Linked DNA regions of Homo sapiens. The protein of the gene in region 1 interacts with the protein of each later gene in a pairwise test. Each region holds a gene or a part of one and is shown on either strand. Other genes may lie near its edges.

Region 1 (3,753 bases):
GCTCCAATCAGGGCACTGGAGTTTGAGCCGGTCCTACCCTGGGCCACAGCCCAGACTCCTCGGCCCACTGTGGCACCTCGCTGCTAGCGCTGCCCCCCGGCCTTCATCGCAGGCCGCGGCCCCTGCGGGCCACCGCTCCCGCCCCGCCGCGCTGCGCCCGCAGACCCAGGTGGCTCCTGGAGCACTCCGAGCCGCCTGGGTCGGGACCTCAGATCCACTCCCAGCCCCGCGAGGCTGCCCTGCCGCTTCGCCCAGAAGGTCTCTTCGATCTGTCCGCTTCCCGGAATCGCTCTCTTAGGACCGGGTCCTGTGTGGCCCAAGTCCTCTCCTCCTAAAGAAACACTTTCAGGGGGAAGCAGCAAAAATTCGGGGCTCGCCTGCCATGGCTCAGATCAACTACTTTCATCGCCTACCTAAACGCTTTTTCACACGCGGAGCTGCAGGACCCCTCGTGCTACCCTCCCCAAATTCCAATAGCTTCCACCACAAGAAAAAGCTGTGATCCTGTTACTGAATCCTAAAAACGCCACCCGTTCCTCCAGCCCCCAACTCCGACCTCCAGCCCTCTGCTCTGGCCGGCGTGTAAACTACTTATCGGCCCCTCGATCCCGATTCCGTAAACAGTCTGGATCCTATAAACCGAACTCTAGACTGGTCCTAAAACCCAGCCCTAATTCAGGCCGATCCACAAGCCCCTACCCCTCAATTCCCAACCCGAGTCTCCCCACCGCGCGGAAACCCCCGGCTCCCCCGTGAAGAGCCCCGGGAAAGGACGGCCCATTTCGCTCGTTTCTTCCTGGGGATCGGGAGCCAGGAAAGCCCGTCTCCTAACCCGAAAGAAATGCAAACTTTGAGCGGCAGATTCGGGATCCTGCGCCATCCCCCTCAGCTCTCCGCTCTCGATCGCTTTCAGTTCCCTCTTTTACGAACTCATCCCCTAGTTCTCGAGCCAGAAGGGCTCCCGATTCCCAAGCCTCGCGCGGGCCCCTACGCCCGCCTCACCAAAGATCCCCAGCAATCATGGAAAGCCGGTGACCCTACACATTCTCGCTCCTCCCTGGGTGAGGGTCCGTGCGTGTAGCCCCTCGGATCCTGGCTTCCCGGGCCCCGCCGGTGTTCCCCTGTCTCCACTGATCCGTCTGCAAACCCTCATTCGCCCTGCCTCCCCAGGCCGCGGCCGCGGCTCCTCGACTCCTCCGGTCACCTGGCCCCAGCCTGGGACCGCTCCCGCCTCCAGCCGCTGGAAAGCATCTCCAGGCTGGTGGCGCGGAGTAAGCGCCGGCCCCAAGGACGCCCGAAGCCGGGAGAAAGAGAACCTGGAGCCTGCCCGCGGTTCCCAGCCTCTCCCCGCGGAGCGCCCGGCCGGGAGCCTTCTGCACCCGGGCTCGGGCCGGCGTGCCTGTTCCTATTCTCGGGTCCCCTGGCGCTCCTGGCGCACAGCTCCCCGCCCGCCCGCTACGGGGTTGGGCCCGCGGCGATTCGAGTCCGCAGCCCGGCTCCTTGCACCCGAGGACAATGCGCGGCCGGCCACGGGCCCAAGCGCGGCGAGGCGGCGGCGGCGGCGGCGGCGGGGCTGAGCGCTGGCCGGGCAGGGGAGCGGGCGGCCCGCGGGGCTCTCGCAGCCTCCGTGCCCGGCCTCGCCGCCCCTCGCGCTGCTCCGCTCCGCGCTCTCCCGGCGCTTCCCCAGCTTCTCTCTGCACGCTCCCGCCGTCCCTCGCTGCTCCCTGCCTCCCTCCTCCCTGCTGCCTCCCTCTCTCTCCTCCCTGCTGCCTCCCTCTCTCCCTCTCTCCTCCTTGCCCTGTCGCAATGAATAATACTCTGGCTTGGGGACTGGAATAAAACACACGCGCTCTGAGGCAGCCGCCCGCAGCAGCAGCCGCCGCCGCGCCGCCGCCGCCGCCTGCAAAAGCGTCTCTGACATGGAAATGAATGACAGCTTACCTGATGCCAATCTTCATCAGACTGACACCGGCGTGACAACACAGCCTATACTTCCCAGCACTGCTCGGGACGTCAGCGGCACAGGGACCCGCCCCCCGGACCCCCCCTTCACACACCTCCCCTCTCCCCACTCCCCCTTTTCTCCCCACCCCCCATCACCCCCACCCACTCCCGGCCCGGCCGCTGCCAAGTCGGAGGAGCCGCTGGAGTGTCTCCCTCTACCGGAGGCTCTCGGGCGGCGGGCGCGGGCCTGCTCCTGCGGCAGGGAGGCGGGCGGCCTGGAGAAGCGGCTCCGCTCGCGAGGAGCCTCGGATGGGGAGTGCGGTGGACCCCCAGGAACTCTGGAGCACCCTCCCGCCCCCAAGCCAAGTCCTCCTTAGCGAACAACCGGGGCCGAGTTCCAAGATATCACCGGTGCTGAGGGGACCGAGATGAGGTGAGATTTTCTGTGGACCCCAAGAGAACTCCCCAGAAATGATGAAACTTAAAACGGGCAAGAAATCCTTCCTTCCACCAGCACTCCCCCTCCCCCTTTTCCTGCCTGGCTGGCCTCATTTTTATGATTGCATTTGAATAATTCTCATTACCCTGGCCCCAGAAAAGGTGTTCAGATGACACTCTGGTTAGTTATTCCTGGTCTCAAGAGCTTTTTCTGCTGTGGGCTTCCCGGGGTGTCTGGTTCAAGGTGGGGCAGAGGGAGAGAGGAAAGAGTGGATAGGCTTTGTCAGTAAAGCACTTCTTTGCAAATGTCAGGCAAGCCTGTTCTAAGCCACTGCTATTTTCATTCTAATAAAAAGTCCTCAAGAAACTCAGTGAGTTCCCAGAGTTCTGGGGGCTGGGGTGCAGTCATATAAAGGGAAAGACCAGCTGGGCTGTTTCAGCCTGGGCCTGCTGGGGTGGCTTCATCTACATCAGGGAGGAAATGGGCTCCTTACATGCCCTCTACAGTGGAAGACAAAAGCAGGCATGTGTAGACCCACAAGCGCCTCCATTCACTCAGCAGAGATCACAGTCCTACTAAGAGCCACACACAGGAGCACACTTGCTTGCTTCCTCAACTTAGCACATGGCCCTCCGCATAAAGGGACAAGAGAACCCCTTCTGCCTCTGGAAGTTTGCTTCTTGCTCCCCATAGAGGAGCCCTTTCAGCCAGTCAGGCAGCCATTGATCCTCTGACCCCAGGCCAGGCAGGGGGCCTGGAAGAAGCCCAGACAAAGACACCGACAAAAGCGGGAAAGCAGAAAGTGAAACCCAGCCTCTGGGTTTTCAGTAAAGAATCTGACCCAAGAAGTTGAAGGCTGCCCCTGAGCTCTTCTCAGGCCTCTGGGTCGCCACTCACCCGCCTCCGTCATGGGCAAGGATGAGAGCTGTTAGCATTGCCTGGCTCAGGGGAGGCAATTGAGACCCTTCTTATATCACATCCCAGATACACACACTACTGTTTGTCCAGATCCTCCCAATACCCTCAAATCCACCCACCAACGTTGCTTGTGGGAGAAACTCTTCAGTGGTAGCCCCCATTATAGACAGATTAGAATCCTCTCACCTTCACATAGAACCTTCAAAAACTTCACTAGGTGGATTTATGTCACCCTAGCCTCTGATCTGCAGTCAGAGTCTCTGGCTGCTGACAGCATAATCGCTATTATATATTATACATTGTATAATAATATAATAATAATGAATGCACTTGCCCTTTTTATGTGGTACAGAAGCGGCCAGATTCTCCAACCCAGAGGCTGGAGGTCAGGCTGCCATAAACTCTCAGAGGGAAGCCCTCTTCAGATAAGGGAGGGGGAGGGGAGATCCATT
Region 2 (3,753 bases), on another chromosome or scaffold:
TAAGATGTTATTCGACTTTCTCATCCTCATACTCATGAATTTTCCAGAGGCTACAAAATCTATGTTATTGCCCTGATGACTAACAGAATCTGTAGTTGTGTATTCTTCTTTCCTAAAATTTCAAGGTAGTAGAGATTTAGTGTATAAATATATGCTTTTTCAGAGATTAATCCACTCTGTTCTCAGTATTCCTACTGTGCTCTTACTAGCTATATTTCACTATACATGCTATAATTCAATATACATGATAATGCAGCCAAAAGCTATTATGTATAGATTCATGTACATTTAAAATAATACTATTCTCAATAAAATTTTAAAAGAAAATCTGGCTTTTTTTCATAAAGACTGTTATTTATGTTAATATACAGTGGGTTTATTGTTATTTTTAAACAAATATTTTTATGTAGCCTACATAAGTTTATTGGAGTCCTCAATTAAGAGTGTAAAGACCAAAAGTCTGAGAGCCACTACTCTAGAATACACCAAAGACAGTTTTTAAGAAACTCTGTATTTTGAAATAATTATGGATTCACAGGAAGTTGCAAAGATATTAGTTTCTCAGTGCCCTTTATCCAATCCTCCCAATGGTCACATCTTATCTACCTATAATCCAATATCAAAACCAGGAAATTGATATTAATATGATGTGTGTGTATAGTTCTATGCCATTTTATCATATGTACACATATTTATTTAAACACCACCATAATCAAAAGGCAGAACCATTCTTTAACTGCAATGATCTCCTCCCTGCTACCCCTCTATTGTCATACCTACTCCCCTAAAGTCTTCTTTCCCTAATACCTGGTAACCATCAATATGTTGTTCATCTCTACAGTTTTATTATTTTGAAAATATTATAAAGTGAGATCATACAGTATGTGACCTTTTGAGATTCTCTTTTGTCACTCAGCAAAATGCCTTTGAGAGATGTCCAAGTTGTTTTTTACTGCTCATCAGCACTGCGTGATATGGAGGTACCATAGTTTAACCATTCACCTATTGCTAAGACATTTTAGTTGGGACTTCTGGGATATTACAAAGAAAGCTTTTATTAATAACTGTGTACAAGTTTCTGTGTGGACCTGAGCTTTCATTTCTCTGGGATGTCCAGGAGTATAATTGCTGGGTTGTACGGTAACTGTATGTTTAGTTTTTAAGATATTGCCAAAATATTTTTTAGAGTGACTGTACCATTTTATATTCCTACCAACAATGTATGAGAGATCCAGTTCCCAAACATCTTTGTCAGCATTTGGTATTGTTACCATTTTTAAATTTTAGCCATCCAAATATGTAGTGATATATTGTGGTTTTAATATGCATTTCCCTAATAGTCACTAAGTCAATGTTGATCAACTTTCCTTGTGCTTATTTGCTATTTGTATATCCTGTCTGTTGAAATGACTATTCTTTTGCCCATGGTTTAAATTGGATTGTTAGGTTTTATTTTTATTTGCTTTTAACATAGAGTTTTGAGAGTTCTTTATGTACTTCAGAGACAGGTCATTTGCTGGATTTGTAATTTGCAAAGAATTTCTCCCAGTCTGTATTTTAATTCCCCTAACAGTGTCTTTCATAAACAAAAGTTTTACATTTTGATGGGGCCCAATAAATCAGTTTTTTATTTTATGGATCACGCTTTTGATGTCATATCTGAGAACTCATTTCCTAGTCCTAGGTCCCTAGAGTTTCTCCTGTAGAAAAGCTTTATAGTTTTATATTTTACATTTTAATCTATAAGTAATTTTGTGTTAATTTTTGCATAAAGTATAAGATTTAAGTCACAATTCATTTTTTGCCTGTGGATATCCAACTGTTCCAGCACAGGTTAAAAAGACAATTCTACCTGTATTGAATTATTTTTGCATTGTCAAACGTCAGTTGGTGTACTTGTGCAGAGTTATTTCTGTGCTATCCATCTATAAGTCTATGCCTCTGACAATAACACAGTCTTGAATACTGTGGCTATGTCTTGAAATCAAGTAGTGATTTCTCTTACACTTTTTCAAAATTTTTTATAGTTCCTTTATTTTTCCATTTTAAAAAATTCTCCATTTCTAAATTTTAGAATCATCTCATTCATATTTATAAAAAATCATGCTCGATTTTTCATAGGAATTACATTAAATTTATATATCAACTAGGAGAGAATTGACGTTTTTACTATGCTGTGTCTTCAAATCCATGAATATGGTATGTCTCTCCAGTTTTTAGGGCTTTTCTTTTCCTTTGTCAGTATTTTATAATTTTCATTTCACATATCCTTATATATTTTGTTAGGTTTATAAATTTTTTCATATATTTTATAAGTATTTTTTATAGATTTACATATTTTACATATATTTACATGCATTTTTGTGTATTTTAATTTTGGGGGGCAATCTAGTTTGGTGTCAGGCTAATACTGACTTCACAGAATGAGTTGGAACATCTTCCCTCCTCTTCTAGTTTTTAAAAGCATGTAAAATTGATGTTCTTTAAATGTTCAGTGGAAACCTTCAGTGTAGCCATCTGGGCCTGGATATTTCTTTTTCATGAGCTTTCCAATCATTAATCAAATATTTTTAGTGGTTATAGGACTATTTTATTACTTATTTCATGTTGGCTGAGTTTGGTTGGTAGTTTGTGGTTTTGGGGAAATTAATCCATTTCTCCTAAGTTGTCAAATTTATGAGCATAAATTTGTTTGTAATATTCCCTCCCTTGTTATCTTTTAACGGCCTTAGGATCAGTAGTGACATCTCATTACATTCCGGATACTGATGATTGCATCTTCTTTTTATCTTTTGATAGTCTTGTTTGAAGTGTATCAATTTTATTGAAATTTTCAAAGAACTGGCTTTTGGCTTCATTGATTTTGTTTGCTTGTTTTCAGTTACACTGATTTCTGTTATTATTTCCTTCTTTCTGCTTGCTTTAAGATCAGTTTGCTTGGCTTTAAAATTGTAAATTCAATTTCTTTAATGGTTATAGGACTATTCAGATTATTTTATTTTGGTTGAGCTGTAGCTTTACGCTACTGATTTAAGAACAATCCTCTTTTCTAATGTAATCATTTAGTGCTATAAATATCCTTATCAATACTTCTTTAACTGCATCCCACAAATTTTGATGTGTTGTATTTTCATTCATTTCTGTGTAATAGGTTTAATTTCTGTCAAGACTTTTTCTTGAACCATAAATTTAAGAATGCTGTGTAATTCCCAAAAATCTGGAAATTTTGTTGTCTTTTATTGGTTTCTAGTTAGATTCATTTATGGTCAGAAAACACACATTGTATTATTTCAATCCTCTTGAATTTGGTCAGATTTGCTTTGTGACTCAAGATATAATCTATCTTTGCAAATCTTCCATAGATGCTTGAAAAAAGTGTATATTCTGCTATTGTTGGTAGAGTTCTCTATAAATGTCAACTCAATCCTGTTGGTTGGTGGTGGCGTTTAGTTACAAAATCATCCAACTACCTCATTTTCAAATAAAATCTCTTAGGCTAAAGAATACTAAACAGTGTGGCAACATGTTTAAGCCAAAACCACACCTAGAGTCCTGAATTCTAGTCTAGAACACCATTTTGACATACTATATCTACTTAAGCAATTAGGAACATAATACTTAGCTATCTCTTAATCAAATATGTACTGCCAAAATAAGGGATTAAGAGACTGGGGATAATAGCTTGTAAACTACAAGTGATTATTATCCTAATATAGTTTTTTAATAATCAGGAATTTGCCTAGACCAAACATA

The links. The genes of interacting proteins can lie anywhere in the genome.
Region 2: the proteins of PKNOX2 (region 1) and C10orf88 interact in binary tests that used the Homo sapiens proteins (3 or more experiments, as listed by UniProt).

The regions. Positions count from the first base shown.
Region 1 is NC_000011.10:125,162,965-125,166,717, reverse strand, and holds the start of PKNOX2 (homeobox protein PKNOX2), read right to left. Parts: upstream 1,968-3,753; 5' UTR 1,942-1,967; intron 1-1,941.
Region 2 is NC_000010.11:122,933,561-122,937,313, forward strand, and holds part of C10orf88 (ATPase PAAT), read right to left. Parts: intron 1-3,753. UniProt on the Homo sapiens protein: ATPase that regulates mitochondrial ABC transporters ABCB7, ABCB8/MITOSUR and ABCB10. Regulates mitochondrial ferric concentration and heme biosynthesis and plays a role in the maintenance of mitochondrial homeostasis and cell survival.